2 linked regions of the Homo sapiens genome follow. The protein of the gene in region 1 interacts with the protein of each later gene in a pairwise test. Each region holds a gene or a part of one and is shown in the gene's direction. Other genes may lie near its edges.

What was found. The genes of interacting proteins can lie anywhere in the genome.
Region 2: the proteins of ATXN10 (region 1) and API5 interact in binary tests that used the Homo sapiens proteins (3 or more experiments, as listed by UniProt).

The regions. Positions count from the first base shown.
Region 1 is NC_000022.11:45,667,607-45,674,834, forward strand, and holds the start of ATXN10 (ataxin-10), read left to right. Parts: upstream 1-4,227; 5' UTR 4,228-4,457; coding exon 4,458-4,573; intron 4,574-7,228. UniProt on the Homo sapiens protein: May play a role in the regulation of cytokinesis. May play a role in signaling by stimulating protein glycosylation. Induces neuritogenesis by activating the Ras-MAP kinase pathway and is necessary for the survival of cerebellar neurons.
Region 2 is NC_000011.10:43,314,969-43,321,995, forward strand, and holds part of API5 (apoptosis inhibitor 5), read left to right. Parts: intron 1-3,452; exon of another isoform or gene 3,453-3,514; intron 3,515-3,671; coding exon 3,672-3,833; intron 3,834-5,852; coding exon 5,853-5,946; intron 5,947-6,442; coding exon 6,443-6,508; intron 6,509-7,016; coding exon 7,017-7,027. UniProt on the Homo sapiens protein: Antiapoptotic factor that may have a role in protein assembly. Negatively regulates ACIN1. By binding to ACIN1, it suppresses ACIN1 cleavage from CASP3 and ACIN1-mediated DNA fragmentation. Also known to efficiently suppress E2F1-induced apoptosis.

The DNA.
Region 1 (7,228 bases):
ACATGGTGGCATGTTCATCTGGTTTGTCTAAGTCAAACAGCTATATAACATTAACAATGTCATTTAGCCCTAGTGAAATATTAACTTGGTTCTGTCAATTCAGTCAAGGTTGAAATCCTCTAGTCGATTTTGGGCAGTCAATAACATCCACTGTTTGACCAGTTTAATTTCCTTTCGTTTCTCTTATGCGTATTTCTACTTTTTGTCTGTCCTGTTAATCTCTCTGTTTTAATCTTTTCCCTTATAATTTTTCTTCTTTTTCCATCAGCCTCCTTTTCTGTACTTTTTGGATTATTGCACTTCTTCTAGAGGCATGCTATCTCCTTTCTCCTTTCTGCAGATATATATATATATATATATATATATGTATATTTATTTATTTATTTATTTAGAGATGGAGTCTTGCTCTGTCACCCAGGCTGGAGTGTAATGGCGTGCTCTCAGCTCACTGCAACCTCTGCCTCCCAGGCTCAAGTGATTCTCCTGCCTCAGCGTCCTGAGTAGCTGGGATTACAGGTGCCTGCCACCATGCCTGGCTAATTTTTTTCTGTATTTTTAGTAGAGATGGGGGTTTCACCATGTTGGCCAGGCTGGTCTCAAACTGCTGACCTCAGGCGATCTGCCTGCCTCCGCCTCCCAAAGTGCTGGGATTACAACCGTAAGCAGGCATGAGCCACCGCGTCCGGCCTCTGCTGATATAGTTAAAAAGATTCTTTGTTCATTAATTCAACTTTTATTGAGCAATTACCACATAGTAGGTCTTTTTCTAGGTGCTGGGCTGGAGATACAAAAATAACCAAAAGAGACAAAAATCTCTACCCTTGTAGAGCTTACATTCTAGTAGTAAGTGAAATAGATAAGCAACAATAAACAAAATAGAAAAGTAAGTTATATATCAAGTATTAAGTGCTATGCGGAAAATTCCTGGGGATCAGGAATTTGGGTAGCCTGTTACAATTTTAAATAGATTGATCAGGAAGGTTGTTAAAAGATCATTTGAACAGGTAGTTGAAGGAAATAAGGAAGCAAGTCATGGAGATGTTTGTGAGGAGTTGTTCTATACAAAAACAAAAACAAAAACACCAGCATATACAAACTCCTAAGGCAGGAGAGTTCTTTTCCTGGTGGAGTTATGGGATTTAAAAAAAAAAAAGGAAAAACAAAACTTTATCTGAGGAATATGATCTCCTTTAAATGATCGGGCCTAGAGAAGCATTGGAATGAAACACCAATCATGTCTCTCCTCCTTGAGCTGAATACTTACCTCTTTTCAAAAGGAATTATTACTATTTTTTAAAGACAGGGTCTCTCTCTATTACCCAGGCTGGACTGCAGTGGTGTGGTAATAGCTCACTGAGGCCTTCAACTCCTAGGCTCAATGAATCCTCCCATTTCAGCCTCTGGAGTAGCTGGGACTATTGCCATGTACCACCATGCCTAATTTTTTAAAAATTTTTTCGTAGAGATGGGGGGTCTCACACTATGTTGTGCAGGCTGGTCTCAGACTCCTGGGCTCAAGCAATCCTCCTGCCTCAGCCACCCAAAGCACTGAGACTACAGGCATGAGCCACCATGCCTGGCCTAATTACCTCTTGAAGCCACATTCTATTTGGCCTCTAGACGAACTGATGTCAACTAGCTACACAATGGCATACAATCTATAGTTCAACATTGTACAGCCAATCATTAACCAACATTATTTCTTAAACCAATGAGAATTCATGACAAACAACCTTTTAAATCACCCTCTCTCCTGATTCGTCCTTTTTTCTTTAAAAAGTTGAGCTTCTCTTTCGTTCTCCAGAGCACTCCCCAAGGCAACTTGGATGTGTGTCCTGGACTGCAATGCTCACGTTGGCCCAAATAAACTCTTTATATTGATTTTACCTCAGCTTATTCCTTTTAAATAGACAGAGGACAATAAGGAGGTCAGTATGGCTGAAGCACAATGGAAGAGGAAGAGGCTAGTAGATGTGATTAGAGCCCACAGGGGCTGGAGGTGATGGCGAAGGAGGAGGCAGGTCATTTAGGGGCTTTTCTATTGGAAGAACTTGGCTTTTACTCTGAGTGAAATGGAAATCCCTTAGAGGGTTTTGGGCAGAGTTAAATGTTGAAATATTTTTTAAACGATCTAAAACGTAAGGAAGCAAGAGCAGAGGCCAAAAGACCAATCAGGAATATATTACAATATTCCAGGCAAGAAGTATGAATATTATAGGGAATGTTTTTCTGGGAATGTTACATTTGAGAATAAGAAAACTAAAGGCCAGGTTTTTTTGTTTGTTTGTTTGAGACAGAGTCTCCCTCTGTTGCCCAGGCTGGAATGCAGTGGTATGATCTCAGCTCAGTGCAACGTGTGCCTTCCAGGTTCAAGCAATTCCCTTGTCTCAGCCTCCCAAATGGCTGGGACTACAGGCACCCGCCACCATGCCTGGCTAATTTTTAGTAGAAAGGGGGTTTTGCCATGTTGGCCAGACTGATCTTGAACTCCTGACCTCAAGTGATCTGCCCGCCTCGGCCTCCCAAAGTGCTGGGATTACAGGCATGAGCCACCGTGTCTGGCCTAAAGATCAGGATTTTGGTGCATAACAAGTACATTTTACTATCCTGTGCTCCTCAAGGGAAAATTAAGAGATTTTTGCCCTGTTAGCTTAAGGAGTGTTAAACATTTTGCATTGTCTTGAGCACTGCTACTAATAAGTGATCTAATACCTGGCACATAGTACACCGCAATATTCGTGGAATGAATAAATACATACTCAATTAAATGGGTAAACTGAATGACAATATCAAGTAACTTGCTTGTGCAGCAGCATTCATTTCCCTCCCTCCTTTTTTTTTTTTTTTTTTTTTTTTTTTGATACAGGGTATCATTCTGCCACCCAGGCTGGAGTGCAGTGGTGTGATCACAGCTCACTGCAGCCTCGACCTCCTGGGCTCAAGTAATCCTCCTGCCTTGGCCACCCAAAGTGCTGGGATTACAGGCATGAGCCACCATGCCCCACCAGGATTCACTTTTTCTGCATACTCTGGTGGTGTTTATTGTTATCTTTACATTTTATTTAGCAAAGAATGTTAAAAGCGCCATGTTATAAGCACACTCCTACCCTCCAAGCAGAATGTAAAGGGTATGTATTTATATATTTTAAGTGGTCCCACAGCAATTTGTACAGTTATAGCAGTTCACAACTATACTCAGTTATGTTTGCTTCTCTCCTTCTCAATAGTCTGTGAGGTTCCTTCAGGTTTGGAACTGTCTTTTATTAATCTTTACATCTCCAGCACCTAGCGCAGGGCTTAGCAACAATTTTTGTTGAAAGTATATACACTGTAATAAAGGGCAGTGGAAAGAAAATATGTGAGTTATCAACACCAGCTAGAGAAGCCTTGTCTGATTCCTGTGAAATATATTCATTTCCCTTAGGAAAAAAAACAATTCTAACCCTATTGCTGTGTAACTTAGCTTCTTGACTTCGAACGGTATTTTAAGGCTTTGAGGAGCTGGAGCAATGTATACTCACTAGAGGCAAAGTGCCTGGTAAGTGGTCTGGTATTGATCAGCAATGATCAGTAAGTACTGGGAAGTGCGTTTTCAGGGCCTGAGACTTGCAAGCTAGTGACAGACCGCTCCAGCTTCCAGTGGACCCGGGCGGGGGCACTGATCAACCCACTTGAGCAGTGGGATCAAGGTCTTCAGCCTTAGCAGTGGGAGCCTCTGCCCGGCCCCCTTCGTTCCCGAGACCCTCAGTCAGCGTCTCCTCCCAAGAGGGTCCCCTCCACCCAGAATGTCCTCCCCTGGGGGAGACCACTCTGTCTGCGGGCCCCCTCCCACAGGAGGGCCCCTCTTCCTCAAGGTGAACCTCTGTCCCCGATACCCGCTCCCAAGACCGAGACCTTGTTACGGCCCCACCCTCCACAGGCCCCTTACCCCCCGGATCCCCTCCCCTGGGGGAGACCCCTCTGTCCGCGGGCACCCTCCTATAGGACGCGCCCCTCTTTCTCAGGGTGAACCTCTGGTTCCCGATACCCGCTCCCAAGACCGAGACCCTGTTACGGCCACATCAACACAGGTCCCCCTCCCCCCGGCGTCCCCTCCCCTCGGAGGAGCCCCGTCTGCGACGCTTCCCAGTCAATCACCCCCAGCATCCCTCCCCGCTCTCACCCAGAACTTCCGCCGCGCCCCCTCCCCTCAGGCGGGACTTCCGCCGGCGCCCCCTCCCCCGCGGCGCCGTCTCCTCCTCCCGCCTGAGGCGAGTCTGGGCTCAGCCTAGAGCTCTCCGGCGGCGGCGCAGCTTCAGGGCAGCGCGGGCTGCAGCGGCGGCGGCGGTTAGGGCTGTGTAGGGCGAGGCCTCCCCCTTCCTCCTCGCCATCCTACTCCTCCCTCCTCGTCATCCTCCCCCTTCGTCCTCCTCGCCTTCCTCCTCCTCGTCAGGCTCGACCCAGCTGTGAGCGGCAAGATGGCGGCGCCCAGGCCGCCGCCTGCCAGGCTGTCGGGCGTCATGGTGCCGGCGCCCATCCAAGACCTGGAGGCCCTGCGCGCGCTCACGGCGCTCTTCAAAGAGCAGCGGAACCGGTAACGGGTCCGGCCGGGGGGCTGCCCCGGGCAGGGGAGGGCGGCCGGGACTCCCGCGGCGGCCCCGGCCTGGACCCAGGCGCCGCCCCCGCCTCGCTGGAGACGCGGAGGGCGAGGCCTGCGCGGGCTGCCTGAGCGCCACCCAGGCCTCCCGACTCCCAGGCACCGCCTCGTGCTCGTGGGTCCCCGCGGGGCCTGGGGCGGGCGCCCCGCTCCCCCACCGCAGCCAGTCCGGGTGCGAAGCCGCGATCCCGGGAGCCCTTGCCGCGGCGTGCCGGTGATGTTGACCCAACACACGGTTAGGCCTCCCCTGTCATGTGCGAGGGCTGCGCCAGGCCCTGGCTGCAAGACCCACGCGGCCCCCAGAGTCATAAAGCGTGTGTTTTAGCGGGAGAGACCCGTGTTACGGACGCGGGAATTGGGCAGTTGCGGGGATGGCAGTCTCTAGGCATGGAGTGGGACTGGCACTCCTTTCTCCTCGGCGTTAGAGCCCAGGCTGCACCATCTGCCCTGGGGGCAGCGCTCTGTGCAGTGTGGAAGAGCACGGGCCTGGAGAGACCAGTCCAGTCCTGATGCCACTGAGGGGCAAGATAGCCAGGCAAAAAGAGAAGGTGCCCAGGAGTCGACAGTTGTGGATTTGGTTCCTGGCCTTGCAAGCTGCGTGTTACTGTGCAGTTTCTCCAGGCCTTAGAATTCTTGTCTAAAAATGGGACTATAATACACAGCTTAGTTGCTGGATTGTACAGAGGAATAAATGAAATAAAGTACGTGAAAATATAAAATGTGCGAAGCCCTCAGTCAATGCTTGTTTGATCTTGTTCTGTCCTCTGGGCCTCAGTTTTCTTGTCTATTTAATGGGAGTAAAGTTGAACAGTACCTCCCTGGTGATAGTGTCATAAGGAGTAAATGAGATATAATGCATATTAAATCCTTAGGACATACCTGTACATAGCACTAAATGTAGCTGATATTATCACTTAACACATTGATTGGTAGTTACCCATGTATCAGCTATTGTGCTAGGTGATGGGGTAGGAAAATGGAAAGTCCTTGCTCTCTCCTGTACTAGTATGTACAAGATAACACAGCTGTGGGGGTATGTATGTACAAAGCAGAGGGAACATTGAAGAAAGAAATACTGAGACTTGGGTCAGCCTAGGTGATCACTAGAGGACTTCCTCTCTTTAAACTAGACACCTGGTCTGAGCACTTCCTTTACCTCACATCACTTTGGGAAATGTGGAGCTGCTGAAGGAATGCTATTAATAAAAGTCCCTGGTACTGCTCTATGGGCCTTTGGGGGAGATGTATTTATTGATTTAATGCTTAGGCATTTCTGTATCATGATGGACCCTCCTTTTAGTTAATAACCCAGTCATCAACCATTTATTGAGCACCTACTATGAAACAGATTTTTTTGTTGGGGTCTGAGGGTACAGAGAGGAATGATGTGAGTGATCCCTTTTATCAGGCATATTTGGGAAATAGCTAAATAAACACATTGTAATGGAAATCTATACAAGAGGTGGTGGCACAGGGGAGCATGTGGATATGTTGGAAGATTGGCGAGCCAGGAGAGGCTTTTTAAGGTTATTTCAGGTGCTCGGTTATAGATGAGAGGACTAGAGGGAACAGTGTCTGCAAAGGGGCCATATGTTAATTTTGCAAAACCGATGAGACAATTAAGTAACATAGATAAGGTTTCTCGTACAGAAGAGACATTTAGTCAGACATCAGTTCCCTTTTTATAACTTGGAGAAAATCCAAGCCCCTGAGCCAGTTTAGAAGGCCCTTCTTGACTCTATCTCTTGTGAGGGAAGAAGTTACAGAGAACCATTGATGGTTTTTGTCAAGGGAGTGGCGCGATAAGATCTGCCTGTTAGATCTTCCTGGCCGCCTCCGCCTCCATTGTGGGGAATAAATGAGAGGACGAAGCTAGAGACAGGGGGGACCTTTAAGGAGTGGTAGCGGAAGCCCATGTGAAAGAGAAAAGTGCCTAAATTAGGACATTGTGGGGATGAGTAGAATAAATACTGAGAGATACAAGGTTGAATGGACAGGACTCGGACCAGTTGGATTGTGGGGGGGAGAATGAGGAAATGAGGATGCTTCCCAGATTTCATCTGAGTTCTGGGACAGTGTCCTTGTTCCAGGCAGAGATTGGAGACCAGGAAAGGTGAACTGATGTGCAGGTCCTGGCATGGAAAGACACAGTTGTGTGGTGGTGCAGAGAACTCATGATCAGGGTTTATAAGGACAGGCTTCTGGTCCTGGTTCTGTCACTGCTTCTCTTTGTCTTTGGACAAATTATAAGGGTCTTGTGGGGCTGGGCCCAGACTCCTGCTCCTCTGAGAGGATCCCTCCAGTTCTGATGCTCAGGGAGCCAGTGTTTGTCCTTGGGGGTCTCCTCTTCAGAGAGGACATAGGGCTGTTGTCTAGTATGAACAGGAACACAGATGGATCCAGGGGGAGGATGGGCCAAGGTGTTAGAAGGTGGACGAGACAAAAAGCCAGGCAAAATGAGTCCTCAGTGTAGCAAATAGAAAACAGCAGACAAAAAGCAAAAACAGTGAGGAAAGTAATTAAGAGATTCTTCTCTTTTGGTGGAATACATTATTTCTCTAGGATTCCATTTTATATTTGAAGAATCATAGA
Region 2 (7,027 bases), on another chromosome or scaffold:
TGATTTTCATGTCAACTTATGAGAGATTTATGATCAGTACTAAGTTTCCTGGCAAATACCTGTCTGGATACTTCTGAGACTGCATTCAAGTTTGTCAGTCTTGACTTCCTTCTAACTTTTACTTTGATTATCAACCTTTACCAGAGAGGTGAGCACTACAGGTGTTCTGATTGCTGCCACTACAGACTATTCCCTCCCCATTATTGTCAATACTCCTTTCAGAGTAGTGCCTTCTAAATATATAAGGGTAAACTTACAAGCCGTCTGAGGTTTTATCGGCTAATTTCCCCAAAGCAGATCAAATCCTCTTTTTGAACCCCTTGGTACGATGTACTTACTAATAATGCTTCAGACTTGTATTTTATTTTATTTATTTCTGTACTTAAATTATAACGTCTCAAGGGTTAAATCCTTTTATGTATTTATTTATTTATTTATTTATTGCTTCTCTTCTTGCACTGTACCTTGCCCTTCAGTAAGCATTTCTTTTTCATAGTTGAAGAAATGTATTGGAAGAAGGAACAGAGAAACCATTTACAAAAGAAAAGAAAAACCATTTACACAGATTATCTCTAATGGATAAAGGGAACTTTATCATACACACACACATACATACATATATGAGCATGTATATTCTAATAAGCAAACTGCAGATGACAAATTCTAAGTGCAGAATTATTTAATACCTCAAATCTTCCAGTCCTATCATCTTCTCATGTAACTGCCATGTTCTGCCTATGCGTTCATCCTGCCTTTCCCCCACTCTGCCTCTGCTACTCCTTCAGGTCTCACTCTTCTCTTGTGTGCTCCTTTACCTTTCTGATCTCCTTTTCCACTGTACTCTGCCCAGGGCTCCTGACTAGCCATAATAGAGCAAGCTGTGGCCCACCATTATTTAAAATTCTGTTTCAAATTATTATGAATTTACTTACTTTAAATATAGATACTTAATTTTATATTATGTAGTCAAAATCTTAAAAGTTAAAAAATGTATCCGACACCTGTTAAAGGACCATGGCAGTGGGGCTGATTAGATCTGTATAATGCTGAAACCCTGATTCCTCCTGTTCTCTCAATCATTGAGTATACTAGCTTTGCAGGGTTGGCGTGTAGGCTTCTTGGACTTTTATTTCATGAAATAACCACTCTTGTAGTAGGGTTTTTTGTATGATTAAGCTAAAACCACTGACCAACCAAGTTCGTAATCCCTCAAAAATATGTGGAAATATTTATTTCACTTCTCTGAGCCCTAGTTTCCTCATCTAAAAGATAAGAATAGTAGTAACACCTATTGTGATATAGACAAGGAATCACTCAGTCCCTGGTAGACCTTCAATAAATATTGTTAATGATTCCTTTTTATTTGATTCCAGATTTAATATTTTTTTCTTGGCAAAAGGAAGTTTTGTTTTAAGCAGGGTTTTTTTTTTTTCATTTAATTTTGGACAGTGTAAGGAGTTTCTTCAAATGGCTTTATGAGTAAGTTTGAGTTAAAGAAAATTAGATTTGTGATACCCTGCAAAAAGTAAGGGTGTCAGAACAAACTTTGATTTTATGAAGCCTGCCTAGAAGTCTGAGGCAAACCACAGGAATGTAAAGTGGTAGAGAAGTCAGCATGATTTCTTTTTTTAATGTTTGCGGTGAAAAGTATGTCATATACCTTTCTTTCTTTGAGACAGGGTCTTGCTCTGTCAGGCTGGAGTGCAGTGGCGCGACCACAGCTTACCACAGCCTCTAACTCCTGGGCGCGACCATGGCTTACCACAGCCTTTATCGCCTGGGCTCAAGTGATTCTCCTCCCTCAGCCTCTCCAGTAGCTGGGACTGCAAGCACACACCACCATGCCTGGTTAATTTTATATTTTTTGGAGAGACAGGGTCTTGATGTGTTTATAATACACTTTTCAGTGATGACTCCTGAAGACTCATATATCTGCATTTCATGAAGAAGTTAACCTTATTCACAGAAATTTCTGTTATTTGGGAGTTGTTCTGTAACTTTGCATCCTGCTTTATTTTTTCACTTAACATAGCATTATCAACAAAAAAGAATCACTGTAAAATAAATTTGGTAATTCTGTAGTTCATTGGATATTTATTGGTCATTCCCCGCTTGATGGCATGAAGTAAGCTCATGTGTCTAAAGCACTTAGAACACTCCTTATACATAATAAATACTATACTGTGTATATGTTTGGTCAAGATTATAATTTTTAAGTTGTTTTTCCAGTTACTAAGTTTTATTCATATGTCCAAACAATATATATGTGTAGTCTTTCTGTATTTGTTACTGTTATTTACCATCTTTATCAGTGTCATTTCATAAAAGGACTGGTTTGGAGGCAAGTACTTAAGGAGGATTGGGAACTTATTGATTCCTCCCATTATGAGTATTTGAGGGAGAGCACCTGTGATTTTTTTTTTTAAGGAAACATGAGCTTTGAGTGTATTGTTCCAATAAAAGGTTTAAACATGTGACATTAGAGTCCGTCTTAATCCAAAATTGTCTGGCTATATGGAGTGAATTGTCATGGCTTTCATATACTGCTATGAGGTAAAATTAAACTGCACTTCCTAACATTGCTGGAATTGCTAAATTTCTGGAATGTATTCCCTTCACCTTCTTCAAGGTGCTAATTAGAAACAGGTAAATTTTTGTTTAAGTAAATACAGTGCAATTCTTTGTGAATTCTATGGTATTCATGATGATTTATTTATTTACTTGTTTAAGATAGAGTCTCATTCTGTCACCCAATCTGGAATGCAGTGGTGCGATCTCAGCTCAGTGCAACCTCTGCCTCCTGGGTTCAAGCGATTCTCCTGCCTCAGCCTCCTGAGGAGCTGGGATTACAAATGTCTGCCACCACACCCAGTTAATTTTTGTATTTTTAGAGAGAGGGAGTTTCACCATGTTGGGCAGGCTGGTCTGGAACTCCTGAGCTCAAGTGATTGCCCACCTCGGCCTCCCAAAGTGTTGAGATTACAGGCATGAGCCACCACACCTGGCCATCATTACAATTGTTTTGTTTGTTTGTTTGTTTTGTTTTGTTTTGTTTTTTGGAGACAGAGTCTCACTCTGTCATCCAGGCTGGAGTGCAGTAGTACGATCTCAGCTCACTGCAACCTCCGCTTCCCGGACTCAAGCAATTCTCCTGCCTCAGCCTCCCGAGTAGCCGGGATTACAGGCGCACACCACCACGCCTGGCTAATTTTTGTGTTTTAGTAGAGACGGGGTTTAACCATGTTGGCCAAGCTAGTCTTGAACTCCTGACCTCAGGTGATCCACCCACCTTGGCCTCCCAAGGTGCTGGGATTACAGGCGTGAGCCACCACGCCTGGCCCATTACAAATTTTTTAAGCATGATACAGTCACATGGCCAGAGTTAATAATCACTAGAATGAAGAAGTATTGGCATATTAACAAACACATTTGCTTTTTCCACTTAAAATTAGACTCATCCATCTCCCCCAACTCAAAAATGAAACAAAGATGGAGGGAGAACGGAATTGGGAAGGTAAGTGTCAGTTTGAGCAGTAAACCTCCCAAAATCAGCTTTATTTCTTAGCCTGTGTAAAAATTTAAAGCACACTCTAACATGTTTGTTATGGTCTTTTACTTTGCTTCCCATCCTTCAAAATCATGTGTCTTTCCTGCTTTATTTTTTATTTCAGCATAAAGATGCCTATCAAGTGATATTGGATGGTGTGAAAGGTGGTACTAAGGAAAAGCGATTAGCAGCTCAATTTATTCCGAAATTCTTTAAGCATTTTCCAGAATTGGCTGATTCTGCTATCAATGCACAGTTAGACCTCTGTGAGGATGAAGATGTATCTGTAAGTTTATGAATGACACTTCATAGCAATCTTTCAGATGTTTCTGTATGTGGCTGATACAATTGGAGTAGCAATCTGATATATCAGAGTACACAATAAAATACTATGGTATGGTCTGGCATGGCATCACACCCAGGCTTAAATTTACATATGATAAAGTGTATTAGCCTTTTTCAACACCTTTAAATTATGAAAAATGCATAGAATCTCAAAATACTTAGTTTCGCTTATCATTTATCCACTGTTAAAAATGGGTTGTGGCTCACATCTTGTTTCATAGATTGTTATTCATTGTGCATATGAAATTAGACTGTTTTTAATCAATTTGTGCTTACTTGGATATTTAAATTATTAAGTGTTATATCATAAAATGTAGTTTCACTACCCTTATATATTTTGCATGGCAGAAAAATGGTATGTGTAATAAGTGAATAGGATTACTAGATTAAAAAGAAATAGTTTTTGTTTTTTGGTTTTTGGGGGGTTTTTTGGAACAGAATTAACCAGTAATATTTCTGGCTGCTGACACAGGTTCCTAAGAATATTCAGCCGTTAGCTCTTGTCTTTTCAGATGAAACAGCGAATTGCCAACATTTCATGCAGAATTTGCTGGATATAAACCCTATACTTTTTTTGCTTTTTTAATAGAAACAGGGTTTCACTCTGTTGCCTAGACCAGAGTGCAGTTGCACATCCATAGCTCACTGCAGCCTTGAACTCCTGGGTTCATGCATTTTTTTCCACTTTAGCCTCCCAAGCAGCACAGACCACCGTTCCCAGCTGATTTTTAATTTTTTTGTAGGGTCTTGCCATGTTGTCCAGGCTGGTCTCAAACTCCTGGCCTCAAGCTATCCTCCCACCTTGGCCTTCTGAAGCATTGGGATTACAGGCGTGAGCCACCTCATCTGGCCCGCTGTACATATTTTATGTAAAAATCGAATAAGCCAAGATCAGTATTTGGAATTAAACATGCAGAATATAGCCACAAATGTTGTATTTAGTAGTCAATACTGAAAATTCTAAAGTAAACAGTTACTAGGTATAACATTGCCACAGTAGCCATTTTTTAGGAATACTATATTATAAGCCCATAGGTAGTAAAAACCTAACAGTTGCATATAATTAGCATGTAAATAGTTGTTTATAATCTCAAATCTGTCTCCTTCAGCGAGACATTGTTAACATCCCTTTTTATATTTTATTCTGTGTAACTTGAAGATTAAATTGGAGCAAATTCTCTCTTTTTTTTTTTTTTTTTTTTTGAGAAGGAGCCTTACTCTATTGGCCAGGCTGGAGTGCGGTGGTGCAATCTTGGCTCACTGCAACCTCCGCCTCCCTGGTTCAAGCGATTCTTCTGTCTTAGCCTCCCAAGTAGCTGGGACTATAGGCGTGTGCCACCACGCCTGGCTAATTTTTGTATTTTTAGTACGGACAGGGTTTCACCATATTGGCAAGGCTGGTCTCAAACTCCTGACCTCGTGATCCACCTGCTTCAGCCTCCCAAAGTGCTGGGATTACAGGTGTGAGCCACCACGCCCGGCCAATTGGAGCAAATTCTTTTTAAAACTGCTAGAAATCTGCTGTTTCATATTTTTGTGACTCGTATGCCCCTAATGATGGCTTCTCTGTGGTTTTAGTTTTCTTAAAAAGTTGAGTTTGCAGCTGGGCATGGTGACTCATGCCTGTAATCCCAACACTTTGGGAGGCTGAGGTGGGAAGATCACTTGAGCCCAGTAGTTCGAGAACAGCCTGGGCAACATAGGGAAATCCGCCTTTAAAATTAGCCAGGCGTGGAGGCTTGCGTCTATAGTCCTAGCTACTAGGGAGGCTAAGGCAAGAGGCTCTCTTGAGCCTAGAAGGTCAAGGCTACATTGAGCCATGGTTGCACCACTGCACTCCAACCTGGGCAACAGAGCAATACCTTGTCTTTAAAAAAAAAAAAAAGAAAGAAAAGAAAAAGCTGTTTGTTATTTTAAAGGTGATAGTATTTGGTTAATTTTTGTTTGAAATCATGCCCAGATTCGACGTCAAGCAATTAAAGAACTGCCTCAATTTGCCACTGGAGAAAATCTTCCTCGAGTGGCAGATATACTAACGCAACTTTTGCAGACAGGTAAGGGATTTTATTATTACCTTTTTCTCTAAATATATATCTTCTTTCTGAAATGTTGACTCTGTTTTTAGGTTTTAAATGGGGTGCAGGAGAGCTGGAGGTCCTACCTCTGATAGAGATTAAATTTCCTACTTTCATTCAGTAGTTAAAGTGTAATGATTTCTGGTTATCTAATTCCTGGTGTTGTTTTGTTTTTAATTCCGTTATGAAGGTGTAATGACTAGATTCTTTTGGGCATTTTGATATATCATAATTTTTCCCCCAATTTCCTGTAGTTTCATAATTGTAGCATCTTAATAAAAGTTTTTCAGGCATGCCAGATCGGGTTCTCAACTTACAAGGAACACGTATCTTTTTGGTACTTGAGGGAATGGCTTAAGTTATAAGTTTCCTGTCAATGTAACCTTGAGAAACTAAGTTGAATCAAGTTTGAAACTGAAGCAGATGATATTTTAAATTTGTTTTATATTCATTATGCCACTTTTTCTTTATCCAGATGACTCTGCAGAATTTAACCTAGTGAACAATGCCCTATTAAGTATATTTAAAATGGATGCAAAAGGTAAGGCCAGTTCTTATTCTGAATTGTGTTTGATGTCTTACAGAATCACAAAGTTAGGTGTTACTCATTAAGAATAAACTCTAGGGTTTACCCAGAGTTCTATTTCATAAAAATTCTAAGTATTGTGAAAAAAGTCTCCTTAGGTCAAGATGTTTATGACTAGAAAAACGAGCAGAAATAACTGCAAAAACAGATCACGTTTTTCCATTAGAAATCTGTTGGAAGAACTCCTTTTGACACTTTCAAGAAATTCTTCCAAAATACCTGGGTTTTATTATTAGTAATGATAAAAAAGGAAAGTCATGCTTAAGCTGACTATGTCTTCATGAAGAAAGCACTCTTATGGTTCAGGCTGTAGAAATTTCAGACTACTTTTAACTAGTAATGAGGATGATATTTGGGAAGTTCATTAACTTATTTGAGAAGAAATACTATAAATTGAGTTAAATGGGAAAACACCATTACACTATAGAATTGACTTGCTACAGGCAACTATTTTGTTTTGCAGGGACTTTAGGT